Regions from separate parts of the Homo sapiens genome. Here region 1 is linked to region 2. A link means that fine-mapping ties the variant in region 2 to the expression of a gene that starts in the linked region. Tissue or cell type: whole blood. Region 2 holds a variant in brackets; the other region holds the start of a gene. All regions are shown on one strand. Distances are from middle to middle.

What was found. PIP is the estimated chance that this variant, and not a neighbour inherited with it, causes the effect.
Region 1: NARF starts here. The variant in region 2 is fine-mapped to the expression of NARF in whole blood (TOPMed, PIP 0.97).

The regions. Positions count from the first base shown.
Region 1 is chr17:82,455,694-82,461,863 of GRCh38, reverse strand. It overlaps NARF (nuclear prelamin A recognition factor), which reads right to left and starts at 3,123. Exons shown (of 11, transcript NM_012336.4): 1 at 3,034-3,123; 2 at 1,792-1,872. The coding sequence starts at 3,060. NARF-AS2 (NARF antisense RNA 2) reads left to right here and starts at 3,345. Exons shown (of 3, transcript NR_184099.1): 1 at 3,345-4,191; 2 at 4,316-4,426. RefSeq lists enhancers at 2,369-3,201, 3,635-3,784 and a silencer at 2,785-3,604.
Region 2 is chr17:82,432,259-82,439,811 of GRCh38, reverse strand. It overlaps HEXD (hexosaminidase D), which reads right to left. Exons shown (of 13, transcript NM_001330542.2): 5 at 5,990-6,154; 6 at 3,940-4,123; 7 at 3,074-3,145; 8 at 2,449-2,644; 9 at 99-181. Among named protein-coding and RNA genes, the nearest start is that of HEXD-IT1, 11 kb to the right of the region's middle. RefSeq lists enhancers at 1-89, 312-811. The variant C/G (reference allele first, on the strand shown) is at 3,868.

The sequences.
Region 1 (6,170 bases), 23 kb before region 2:
GCACACAGGGCAACCGGGAGAACACCTGTCAGATTAAACATGTCAGGACTACTAAACTTAAGGAAAAAATATGCTTCTGCCATATTGCCAACTCTCCATTTATAAACTGGTACTAGTACTTTCTAAGGGTAGACTGACCTTAACCTCTCCCAACACCCTTCACTCAGTAAAACAGGGATAATGGCCAGGCTTACATGTAATGTTCCTTCTGGGCGTGAAATGAGACTGCATGTAAAATGACATTCTTTTTTTTGAGACGGAGTCTCACTCTGTCGCCCCAGCTGGAGTGCAGTGGCGTGATCTCGGCTCACCTCAACCTCCGCCTCCCGGGTTCAAGCAATTCTCCTGCCTCAGGCTCCTGAGTAGCTGGGATTACAGGCATGCACCACCACGCCCAGCTAATTTTGTATTTTTAGTAGAGATGGGGTTTATCTATGTTGGTCAGGCTGATCTTGAACTCCTGACCTCAGGTAATCCACCCACCTCGGCCTCCCAAAGTGTTGGGATTACAGGTGTGAGCCACCATGCCTGGCTGTAAAATCACATTCTTGAGAGCCAGGCTCAGGTTATGTATCCAATAAACAGAGACCATAGCTACTAGCTAAGGAGAATTTAAAAACAAGAACTGAATTAGAAGAGAGGCCAGGTGCAGTGGCTCACGCCTGTAATCCCAGCACTTTGGGAGGCTGAGGCAGGAGGATCACTTGAGCCCAGGAGGTCAAGACCAATCTGGGCAACATAGTGGAACTCCATTTCTACCAAAAAATAAAAATAAAAATAAATTAGCTGAGCATGGTGGTGCATACCTGTAGTCCCAGCTACTAGGGAGGCTGAGGCAGGAGAATCACTTGAGCCTCAGAGGTCAAGGCTGCGGTGAGCCATACAGTGAGCCACTGCACTCCAGCCTGGGTGACAGTGAGACCCTGTCTCAAAAGGGGAAAAAAAAAATTAAAAGAAGAAATCCAGTATTACACCACGTTTTCTTTGTTCCCAATGCAGTGTGTTTTGGTGTAGTGTGTTCTGAGAAGACAGGCCTTGTGCCACTGATGGACTGTCTCACACATGTCTTTATTAGCCCCTTCAAGTTTATTTCAGTCTCGGAGACGGAGTCTTACTCTGTTGCCCAGGCTGGAGTGCAGTGGCGCGATCTTGCCTCACTGCAAGTTCCGCCTCCCAGGTTCACGCCTTTCTCCTGGCTCAGCCTCCCGAGTAGCTGGGACTACAGGCGCCCCCCACCACGCCCGGCTAATTTTTTGCATTTTTAGTAGAGATGAGGTTTCACTGTGTTAGCCAGGATAGTCTCAATCTCCTGATCTCATGATCCGCCTGCCTCGGCCTCCCAAAGTTCTGGGATTACAGGCATGAGCCACCACGCCTGGCCTATTTCAGTCTTTTTTTTGGGACAGAGTCTCACTCTGTTGCCCAGGCTGAAGTACAGTGGTACAATCTCAGCTCACTGCAACCTCTGTCTTCCAGGGTCAAGCAATTCTCCTGCCTCAGCCTCCTGAGTAGCTGGGATTACAGGCGTACACCACCATACCTGGATAATTTTTGTATTTTTAGCAGAGATAAGGTTTCACCATGTTGGCCAGGCTGGTCTCAAACTCCTGACCTCAAGTGATCCGTCCACCTCGGCCTCCCAAAGTGCTGGGATTCCAGGCGTGAGCCACCATGCCCGCGTACTTCAGTCTTCTTTAAAGCAGTGATGTGCACGGTGCTGTGAGCCCCCAAAGAGAAAAACAGCAGCAGTAGTTTACTCTGGGCTGATACAAAACTGAAAAATCTACTTGCCTCTCCATTTTCCTGGGCTGGACTCGGTGCATCGGCTGACACATTCTCTTGGTCATCAGTTTTTGTTTTCTTACTACATTCCTTAAAAAAGCAAAGGAACATTATCAATGAACTTTTACTTCGTCTCCCTTAAGAAAATGTGCACATTCTGACCAATGAAGCTCATGTATTTCTATCCTTTCTTTTAGTTTATTTATTTATTTTTTTAGACGGAGTCTCGCTCTCACCCAGGCTGGAGTGCAGGGGCGCAATCTCGGCTCACTGCAGCCTCCACCTCCCGGGTTCAAGCGATTCTCCTGCCTCGGCCTTCTGAGTAGCTGGGATTACAGGTGTGCGCCACCACACCCAGCTAATTTTATATTTTTAGTAGAGACTGGGTTTCGCCATGTTGGCCACGATGGTCTTGAACTGCTGACCTCAGGTGATCCACCCGCCTCGGCCTCCCCTCCCAAGGTGCTGGGATAACAGGCTTGAGCCACCGTGCCTGGCCTTCTATCCTTCTAACCCTTCTAGTGAAACAGGTACTGAAGGACACACACACATCTCTATTGTTTACAATAATAAAAAAGCAGAAGCAACTGTAGCCTTCACCCCACAGGCGAATTCCCCTGGACACAGGTGTACTTAGAATAGGACGCAGCCACCACCGGGGATGAACGACCCATGGAATGTTAGGAAGCCTCCTGCCACGGCGTCACGCGCAGAAGTGCCAGCCACAGAGCAGCATCCACAGGAGCCCATTCCGGCAATAACAGCTACAAAACCCCCCTGCGTGCGCTGCGCGGTTGTTGCCATGGCCTGGAGACAACCGCGGAAGGCGCCGGTCAGCAGCCGTCACCCGCTTCCGCCCCTGCACCGGCTGCTCGGTGACCCTCAGAGGGGCAGGTTCGAAAACGCCTAAAACCCTCTCGAAACGCTTCTGATCATTCCCGCCACGACCGCTGTTTACTCGGACTGTGGTGCGCGGCACGAGAGGCTCGGTCTCCGTGCGTTTCCGCGCTTCGCGGGCGTGGGAAAGATGGACAAGTTCAGGGAGAACCGCGAAGACCGAACCCGCCCTGCAGAGCGCAGCGGACCCCGCGCCGGCCGCCTCCACGCCGAGCGGGCCCAGGGTGCCGAGGCCGGGGGCGCCTTGAAGAGCCCTGAAGCGAGCGAGCGGCGGGCCCGGACCGCCAACCTCGGCCGCCCAGAGCCCCACAGGACAAGCACCAGGCGCGCGCCTCCCCGGCCCGCGGCGCTCACCTTGCGCGTGCAGTGCTCACACTTCATCTGGAGCGCGGCGGGCGGGAGGCCGGGCGCCTCAGCCTCAGGGAAGCACCGGGAGACTGGGACACCACTGCCCGCCGCCCGCGGCCCTTTGTTGTCCTCCCCCGACGCGGCCTCACCCCCAACGGCCGCGCTCGGCCAATGAGAGCACCGGGAGAGGACAAGCCGCACCCCTGGGCCAATAGGATTCCCCACCCTTACGGCTTTGCCTAGGCCAATGACAGTGTCGGGAAGGGGCGGGCCAGGCCCCAGAGCCAATCGGAGCGCGCGGGGCGGACCGCAGGCTCACTCCACGTACGGCGCCGGGGGGACCGGGTCCTTGCGCCGGTTTCCGCTTCTCGTGGGTCCTGCGGCGGCGGCGGCGGCCAAGCGGCGTTCACCAGGGAGTCGGTGAGCGCGCGGACTGTCCCGAGGCCAAGCTGGGGCCGTTCCAGGGTGCTCGGTCCGGTGGTCACGGGGCCTGGAGGCCCCTGGGCCCGCGGAGGCCGCGGCCGGGCTCTGTCAGCCAGCTCGGCGTTGGACACTCGCCTTACTCGCGGCTCCTAACGGGGCGGGCCGGGGGCACAGCCCTCGTCCGCCGCCATTGCCACTTGACGTCGTGTCACGTAGGCTCGGCGGAGTAGCAGCGCGCATGCGCGGCCTGCCTGTCAGTAACCACGTGATGGACCCGGAAGCCCGAGGGCAGATGCTAAATGATGGCCATTTGACATTTGCGTGTGTTCACTATGGATAGTTTTACCAAGTACATTGATTTGGGCCCTTACAGCTTACAAAGTAAAGATAACACTTACTCCTCCAAGAAATTGATTTCAGCTAAGCAAAACATTGATACAGGGCTATAATGGAAGTGTTGGACTCATAAACGTTTTATGAAATCAGTGTGTGTGTATTACAGAAATCAGAAATGAGAAGTAAGAACATGTCTGGGAGAGTGTGACATAAGAAAAATAACTTGTAGGCGTATTTAACAGACAGCAGCAGTTCTCAGGATTCCCCATGTTAGAGCCTTCCTTCCTGTCCTCTGAGAAATGAAAATGAAATCCAAAGACCCCCAACTGACTACACGAACCCCCTACTGGCTAAGGAGATCCCAGGGTTGCCTTGAAGGCAGTTCTCAGCCATGACAGATGGGAGGTGAGACACCTGTTATTAAGGCCAACCCTTGGCTAACTACCATTAGGTTTTCTTGGCTAAGAGCTTAACGGAAACCAGCGCTTTCGAAAGACTCCACCGCTGATAACAACTCTCTCATTTGCAGTTTCGGCCCAATTGACCAGTATTCCTTACTGATAAGAGACACTGACCATGGAGTGGTTCTGGTGAGATGACATGACCCTCGTGAAGGGGCCTGAAGCTTCATTGTGTTTGTGTATGTTTCTCTCTTCAAAAATATTCATGACTTCTCCTGTAGCTTGATAAATATGTATATTTACACACTGCACCTCATAGATTCCTGTTCCCTTTGCCCCTCCCTGGAAGTGTCTGTTTCTGGCTTCTGGCCAGAGGCAGTGCTTCCCTGTCTGTCAGAATGGCCACCCTGCAGGCTGAAACCCTTTATGAGAAGTAAAGCTCTCCTTTCCAGATTTATGAATCTCATCATTCTTCAGCTTGCCATTGCCCATCGGGTTCTTCCTGCCCACTGCACAGACAAAAAGTCAATTCATCAAGATTGCAGCAGGCCGGGAAAAGAGTTTAATTGACACCTGGCAGGCCACACAGGAGACAGTTACTACTCAAATCAGTCTCTCCAAAGGCTCAGCAGTTAGGAGTTTGTTTTTTGTTTTTTTGTTTTTGTTTTTGAGACGGAGTCTCACTCTGTCACCCAGGTTGGAGTGCAGTGGCACAATCTCGGCTCACTACAACCTCCACCTCCCAGGTTCAAGCGATTCTCCTACCTCAGCCTCCTAAGTAGCTGGGACGACAGGCACACGCCACCACGCCTGGCTAATTTTTGTATTTTTTAGTAGAGATGGGGTTTCACCATAATGGCCAGGCTGGTCTTGAACTCCTGACCTTGTGATCCGCCTGCCTCGGCCTCCCAAAGTGCTGGGATTACAGGCATGAGCCACCACGCCTGGCCGCAGTTAGGGTTTTTATGGACAATTTGGTGGGCAGGGGGCTAGGGAATGGATGCTGCTGATTGACTGGGAATGAAATCAAAAGGGTGTGTGGAAAACGGTCCTCAAGCACTGAGTCTGCCTCTGGGTGGGGCCACAGAAACCAATTGAGTCCTGAGTAGCAGGTTGGGGTGGGTTCACTCTGAAAAACATCTCAAAAAGCCATTCTTAGGTCCTGCAATACTGATATTATCTATAGGTGCAATTCGGGAAGTTGCAAATTTTGTGACCTCTGGCCACATGAGTCCTGAGCAGTGAGGGACTGTAGAAACTAGGCCTGCATTTTAGCAGAGTTCAGGCCACTCCCACAATCCTAACCTTGTGGCCTTTCATTAGCTTTACAAAGGCAATTTCAGCCCCAGAAGTGGGAGGTGATAGTTTTAGGAAGGGACTATTATCATCCTTGTTTCAAGGTTAAACTGTAAATTCCTCCCAAAGCTCCTAAAATTAGCTTGGCTTATGCCCAGGAACAACTGGACAGCTTGGATGTCCAAAGGAAGACGGAATTAACTGTGTGAAATTTCTCTGTCTTTTTTTTTTGAGACAGGGTCTCACTCTGTCACCCAGGCTGGAGTGCAGTGGCGTGATCACAGCTCACTGCAGCCTCAACCTCCTTGGATCAAGTAATCCTTCCACCTCAGCCCCGCGGGGTAGCTGGGACTACAGGCTCACACCACTGTGCATGGCTAAGTTTTAAATTTTTTGTAGATACAGGGTCTCCCCATGTTGCCCAGGCTGTTCTTGAATTCCTGGGCCCAAGTGATCCATCTCAGCCTCCCAAAGTGCTGGGATTACAGGTGTGAGCCACTGCACCCAGCCTCTATCACTGCCTTAATCTTTGCAAAGGCAGTTTCAAGTTGACACTTCAAAGTTGAGCTCAGGCATGGTGGCTCATGCCTGTAATCCCAGCACTTTGGGAGGCCGAGGCAGGCGGATCACTTGAGGTCAGGAGTTTGACACCAGCCTGGCCAACATGCTGAAACCCCATCTCTACTA
Region 2 (7,553 bases):
TCCAGCAGGGTGGTTGGAGCACTGGGTGCTTGGCCTCCTGCCCTCCGGGTCTTTCGGGGAGGGGCCGGTGGGGCTTGGGGTGGCCAGACCAGACATACCGCGTAGAAGCAACTGCAGGCAGGCGGCCAGGGACGGGACTCCTGCGGGCAGCAGCTCGCACAGCACAGAGTAGTGGTCGTACCTGGGTCCATGAGAGGGGCGCTTAGCTCCGCAGCCCGCCCCCAGCAGCCTGACGCAGGCGCCCTGACTTCGGACGTCCCTGCTGTTGTTCCAGGGCCTTAGGCTACATCAGCGCTGGGGGCAGCCCGACCCCCTCAACCCATGGGGCCCAGGGTTTCCAAGACAGGTTCTGTGCGGCAGGGCTCTCATGTCAACTCCGTTCTAGAAACCGGACAAGTGAAGAGCGTGGGGATTCCTTGCTGCAATGCTCTCCGGAGCCATGGGAATTCTGGGTGGACCTTGGGTGGGTGGCCGGTCGTTGTCCCTCCCCCCAGCACCTCTGGCCTCTGAGAAAAGGGCTCCTGCTTCTGGGGGCTGCCCTTGACGCCCCCCTCCTAGGGCCTCCGGGCCCCTCCTGCCCCACCCTCTCCCTCGGCTGCCTCCTGTCTGGCTGGTGGGGGTGGCAGCTTTTCCCCAAGGCCCCATGAGGAGGGCGAGAGATCAGGCGTGGCAGGCAGCAGGTCAGGGGCAGCATCTGTCCCAAGCGAGGGCTGGGGGGCCTTGGCCTGGCCTGGGCTTCCCACTGCTGGGTAGGGTGCCTCCACCTGCCCGTGCCTCAGTTTCTTCAGCTGTGAGGTGGGTGACAGACGCTGCCCCAGGTGTGAGCACAGGCGAAGGCTGGGCAATGCCTGACGCCACAGCCCCAGGCTCGCCTGAAGGATGCGCCGCTGCTCTGGGGGAGGAGGAGCCTCGCCCCGCTCTATGGACGATCCTGGTTTATGCAGACAGAGCTGTATCCCAACAGGACAGTGGGAACTATCTAGAAGCTTCTGCAGAGCCGCTGCCAGCTCCGGACATGCATGGTGGCTGTGAGCTGCCCCTCTAGCAGGCTGGCCCACCAGGCTCTGCGGTCCCCACCATGAAATTCTTGACTCCATCTCAATCTGAGCTTTGTGGGTGAGGGCACGGGGCCCCTGGTGGGTCTGGCCTCCAGCCGTTCGCCTAGCCCACATCACCTGCGCCACCTGCCCCCCAACCCTCTAACTTGAGACGAGACCCAAGGTCAGGACTTGGCCGGCGACCAGGGGTTTATCTTAGCTCTGCTTTTCACACAGTGTCGTCAGGGGAGCAGGGGCCTGGGAGCGCCAGGGTGATGCCACGGAGGCCCAGCTCCTTCATGGGACTAACAAGGCCCATTCTTGCCAGGCAGGACCCACAGTCACAGGATTTTTACAGCTGAGGAAGTGCTTAGATACCTGCAGGGGCCACTCCTACAACAGCCGACAGTCCTGGCATCCCCACACCCACGACAGCATGTGCCTTCTAGGTCACCAGAGTTAGGCTTCCATAGGCTACACACTGAAATGTCCAGGACAGTTTTCTTTAAATCATAGAGTAATACATTTTTTTTTTTTGAGACAGAGTTTTGCTCTGTCGCCCAGGCTGGAGTGCAGCGGTGTGATCTTGGCTCACTGCAACCTCCGCCTCCTGGGTTCAAGTGATTCTCCTTGCCTCAGCCTCCCGAGTAGCTAGGATCATAGGCGCGTGCCACCACGCCAGGCTAATTTTTGTGTCTTTAGTAGAGATGGGGTTTCACCACGTTGGCCAGGCTGGTCACGAACTCTGGACCTCAGGTGATCCACCCGTCTCAGCCTCCCAGAGTGCTGGGATAACAGGCATGAGCCACCGCACTCAGCCCCTAGAGTAATAAATTCTGTCACACTATTGGCCCACCCACAGGTAGCACAGCTTAGTGTTTACGTAGACAAGACCCTGATATGAGAAAAACGGAAAACAGAGCTGGGCACGCCTATGCTGGCCTTCCGAGGGCTCCACCTCTGTCACTGGGCACCTTTCAGTGACCCTCCCTCACCACACTTGGCCTTGAATTCTTTCCTGTGTGAGACCCAAGAACCTTCTCGTGGGGTCCGAATTGAGACGGCATTTCTAGCAACAGAGTGAAATCCTGAAAGAACCGAAACCCCTCCTCGTGCCACAAGCAAGACACACACACACACACACACACAGCCTCAGGTGCGGCGCACACGGGTAGCATGGGGGCTGGGGGCCACGTGTTCGTGACCCTGAACACGGGAGCAGCGTCCCTCAGCGGCCGCTCTGGCGTGCAGGGCCCAACCCCACGTGGCTGTTTCTGCAGCTCCTCTTGGAGGCCCGGGCTGCTTCCCCTTTGACCAACCTGGGAAGGCCCTTGGCGGACGCTGCACAGGCCGACGTGGTGGCCACCAGAGCTGCCCTGGACCCTCTGAGGACAGACTGGCCAGGACTTACCTCTGCCAGCCGGTCAGGATGATGCCCTGCAGTGAGTCCGTGGGCCCGCTGCCCGCCACCTGCAGCCACTGCACGTGGTTCCTGAGGTGGTGCTCAACAGGGGGCACGGCCTGGCTGGGCCCCGTGGCACCCTTGAAGGCACTGGCTGCCCACAGCTGCGGAAAGCCGCACCGCCGGTACTTCTGCATGAGGAGGACTGGGTGAGAAAGCAAACAGGTGAGTGGCTCCAGGGGAGGCGGCCAACACGGCCCTGGACACGCCTCCCGGGGCTGTACCCAGAGCCAACATGGGAGCCGCCTGAGACAGCCAGGCCCGGGTCTCAGTGTAGGAGACTCCAGAGTGTATGCGGCCGGCCCGGGTCCCAGTCGGGGAGACTCCAGAGTGTACGTGGCCCCTGGTTCACCTGCTCACTAGGAAAACACTGGTGGAACAGGGAGGGAGGTGAGGCACCGGTGCACGGTGGCCGTCCCGAGGCACCATGGGCTGGGGTCTGCTGGGGCTGTGCCCTGGCCTCTACCCGTGCAGGCTCCAGGCTGGGCAGTTCCGGCTGCAGGGTCACAGGGCCAGGGATGGCCTTCCCAGGCACATGGCCAGGACAACACACCCCCCACAACTTGGCACTGACCCTTGCCGTGCACATCCAGGTCGGCCGTGTAGTCCCAGAGCACCGGCTCCACCAGCTGCGGCACCCCGGACGCTGCAGACAGAGCGGACGTGAGGTTGGTGAGACACCTGGACCACACTCTCAGCCCCTCGGACCCACCTGTTCTCGTTTTGCTTGAAAGTGTGAGCACAGATACCTTTTTAAGACAGACTTGGCACCGTGCTGGGTTTTGACAATGAATGCCACAACCACACACAGTGCCTTTCCAAGCCAGCGCCCGCTGGAGCGACCATGCTCCCACTGCTGCTCTACCAGGCCATGAGCCACAGGCACAGCTGGAGCACGCGGCTGAATGGAGGTCACTCTAAGTCATCTATGTGGCCATGCATGGGTGGAAGCTGCCAGGCCGGCACGGCCCTAGGACACCCTGGCTCCCAGCTCTGCTATGGAGCTCACTGAGCCTCGGGGCTCTGTGTGGAACCAGGCCAGGTGTCTGAGTACCACCTCTTGGCCCAGAAAGGCGCTCAGCAGCTCGTCCCAAAGCCTCAGGCAGAGCGAGCAGGGCCCAGGGGCTGGAGGAGCAGCCAGCGGGAACCTCGGCCCCCAGTCCCAGCAGGGATGGCCTTGGAGGAGGCTGCTGCGAGTGCTGGACACTCCCAAGCCCTCTGGGCCACCAGGCAGGCCTGTGCTCTCCTGCCCAAACCTCCACAGCTTCTAGGGAAACGACTCAGGCCTGGCGTCAAGGGGATGCAGGAGGTGGTTGTGGCGGGTCTGTGCGGGGCTGGGGCTCACCCTGGGGCCCACTTCCTACAGCA[C/G]CTTCTTTCTTTGAAGCCGCAGGTCTTGGGCAGTTCAGTGGCCCACCCCCTCCCCCAGCCCTGTTGGCCGACCTGCGAGCTGGTCCTCAGGCAGGTCTCGGAGCATGTCGTCCCACACCAGGGGTGTCACGCTGGGGCGCCGGGCCTTCACGCCGCTGGCCACCGCCCGCATGTGTGACAGGCACAACTTCCCCGTGCTGTTCTGCTCTTGCTGTAGCCACCGGCGCGAGGCCTCCCCCTCTCCGAGGTAATAGACCTGCAAGGAAGGAGCAGGACGGGGTTGCCTTGGCAGCCGTGCACACCGGTGGGAGGGTCCGGGGTTCACGCCGTGCCCTGACGGAGAGGGGCCGCTGCCTGTGGGGAGGAGGCCAGGGAGGGGCTCGGAGCCTTTGCTTACCACCCCCAGCGTGTCCCTGTCTTCCTCACTGAGCCCTGAACTTCTACTCAAGGTTTCCTGTGAATGTTCACAGCAGCTCTTCTCACAGCCAACAAAGCAGAGACCACAGGGGTCCATCCCCCATGATGGACCAGCATAGGGCAGCATCCCCCACCATGAACACGGCTCGGCTTCAGCAGACAGCCAAGCTCTGGCAGCTGACAGCCCGGAGGAGCACAGGTCATACACTGTGTGACTCGGTACCCGTGGAATGCCCAGACGGGCAAATCCACCGAGATAGGAAGCAGACCGTGGTCGCCGGGGCCTGGGGGCAGGTGCGGGGCTTGCCCTGGGGTGATTGCCCACACCATGAATGTCTGGAAGAGGTGCTGACGTTTATACTTATTTATTTATTTTGGAGACAGGGTCTTGCTCTGTTGCCCAGGCTGGAGTGCAGTGGCACAATCTCAATCTCGGCTCACTGCAACCTCCACCTCCTGGGTTCAAGTGATTCTCCTGCCTCAGTCTCCTGAGTAGCTGGGATTACAGGCGCCCACCACCACACCTGGCTAATTTTGTATTTTTAGTAGAGACGGGGTTTCACCATGTTGGCCAGGCTGATCTTGAACTCCTGATCTCAGGTGGTCCACCTGCCTCAGCCTCCCAAAGTGCTGGGATCACAAGTGTGAGCCACCGTGCCTGGCCTATTTATTTATTTACTTATTTATTTAGAGCCGGAGTCTCACTCTGTTGCCCAGGCTGGTATGCAGTGGCGTGATCTCAGCTCACTGCAACCTTCACCTCCTGGGTTCAAGCGATTCTCGTGCCTCAGCCTCCTGAGTAGCTGGGATTACAGGCGCCCGCCATCACGCCCGGCTGATTTTTGTATATTTAGTAGAGACGGGGTTTCACCACATTGGCCAAACTGGTCTCAAACACCTGACCTCAGGTGATCCACCCACTTTGGTCTCCCAAAGTGCTGGGATTACAGGCGTGAGCCACCACACCCAGCCTATATTTTAAAATGGTTAGAATGGTAAAGCTTAAGTGTATTTTACATACTCAGGTTTCCTTCAAAAAAAGGAAACTTCTGGGGCTAAAATGTTCAGCTCGGGTTCCCTGTGAGCCACAGCCCTGCAGAACCTCCCAGCCCCGTGGGCACCAACCCCGCCCCTTTCAGTTCCACATCCTGCCCAGGCCCTGACTGAGTTGGAGTCCAGTGAGTGGCAGGAGGGGCAAGGGTGGGGGCTCACTGGGTTGGAGGGGGCACATCTCTGGCACCCCCTGGGGACCACCTTTTCCATTGGGTGCTTCAGGGTCCAAATGCAGAACTTCCTCTCAGCAACAAAAGGGTGTCCCTCGAGTTACACCCTGACTTATGCTCACTGCTGGTCCTGGGGCGTGAACCTGCCCATCACCCACAGGCTTCCGCCAGCCCAGCCGCCCGGGGTGGTCTCGTCTGACACGAGGGTGCCTCCCTCGGGCTCTGCAGGCTGTCCCGTGCCAGGCCGCCCATCCACCCGGAGAAGATGTTGGACGCGTCTGACACGAGGGTGCCTCCCTCGGGCTCCGCAGGCTGTCCCGTGCCAGGCCGCCCATCCACTCGGAGAAGATGTTGGATGGGGTGCCCTGAGGGGAACAACAAGCCTGTCTCTAGGCCTCAGTGCCTGGAAGATTTTCCTATTTAAAAGGACAAGCCATGATAGGGGAGAGTGTCCTGCACAGAGCTGGGGTGACAGTACCCACCTCATCACACCCGATGTGCAGCCGCTGGGCGCCTGGGTGTAGCTCCAGGACCTGGTCAATCATGGCGCCCACCAGCGCCAGGGACTCTGCCTCGTGGGGGTTCAGGGTGCAGGGGAAGGAGCCCACCTCCCGCAGGTGGGCGAAGGCCGTGTGCTTCAGCACAAACTGCGGAGAGACAGAGAAGTTCGCGTTGGGGGCGGAGGAGCTGGACTGATCTCCTTCTGCCCACCTGGGGCTTCTGTTTCAAATCTACAGATAATACAAAAAAATTAGGCCAGGCAGAGAGTCTCAGTCCTGTAATCCCAGCACCTTGTGGGGGCTGAGGTGGGTAGAATGTTTGAACTCAGGAATTTGAGACCAGCCTGGACAACTGGTGAAACCCCATGGAATCTCGCTTTGTTGCCCAGGCTGGAGTGCAGTGGCACAGTCTCGGCTCACTGCAACCTCTGCCTCCCAGGTTCAAGTGATCCTCCCGCCTCAGCCTTCCCAGTAGCTGGGGATTACAGGCATGTGCCACCACGCCTGGCTAATTTTTGTATTTTTAGTAGAGATGGCGTTTCACTATGTTGGCCAGGCTGGTCTTGAACTCCTGACCACAAGTGATTCGCCTTCCTTGGCCTCCCAAAGTGCTGGGATTACAGGCGTGAACCACCACGCCCAGACTAAAAATATATATATAAAAAAAAAAAAAAAATATATATATATATATATATATATATATATATATATATTTTTTTTTTTTTTTCTTTTTTTTTTTGAGATGGAGTCTTGCTCTGCCGCCCAGTCTGGAGTGCAGTGGCATGATCTCGGCTCACTACAAGCTCTGCCTCCCAGGTTCACACCATTCTCCTGCCTCAGCCTCCCGAGTAGCTGGGACTACAGGCGCCCGCCACCACGCCCGGCTAATTTTTGTATTTTGTTTTAGTAGAGACGGGGTTTCACCGTGTTAGCCAGGATGGTCTCGATCTCCTGACCTTGTGATCTGCCCGCCTTGGCCTCCCAAAGTGCTGGGATTACAGGCGTGAGCCACTGCACCCAGCCATAAATTTTTTAAAAACCAAATCGGTTTAAGAAAAAAAAGTGGCCAGGTGTGGTGGCACCTGCCTGTGGTCCAGCTACTTGGGAGGCTGAAGCGGGAAGATCACTGGAGCCTAGGAAGTTGAGGCTGTAGTGAGCCATGATCACACCACTGCACTCCAGCCTGGGCGACAGAGTGAGACCCTGTCTCTGAAAAGAAAAAAACAGAAAAATGTTTATCTATGAAAGACCACTCTAACTTTGCCTAAGAACAGAGACTCTGTGGCCTCGGCCTAGGGCTACTCACTGCCCCCTTCCCCCTCACTGTGGAAACCACAGCTTTGCTGCCAAAGGGGCAGACTTAACTTGAGGCTGGGTTAAAAACCCACCCCTTGTGGGGGCGCTGTCAGTAGAAGCAGCAACTGGAGAAGAGGCCCTGTCTTCCGCTTGCCAGAGGGTGCAGTCCCTGCTGGGGAGAGCCAAGACTGGCTGCAGATTTAATGGGTGACCCTGGAAACAGAAAGCCAGATGGTGCTGCACACTCTCC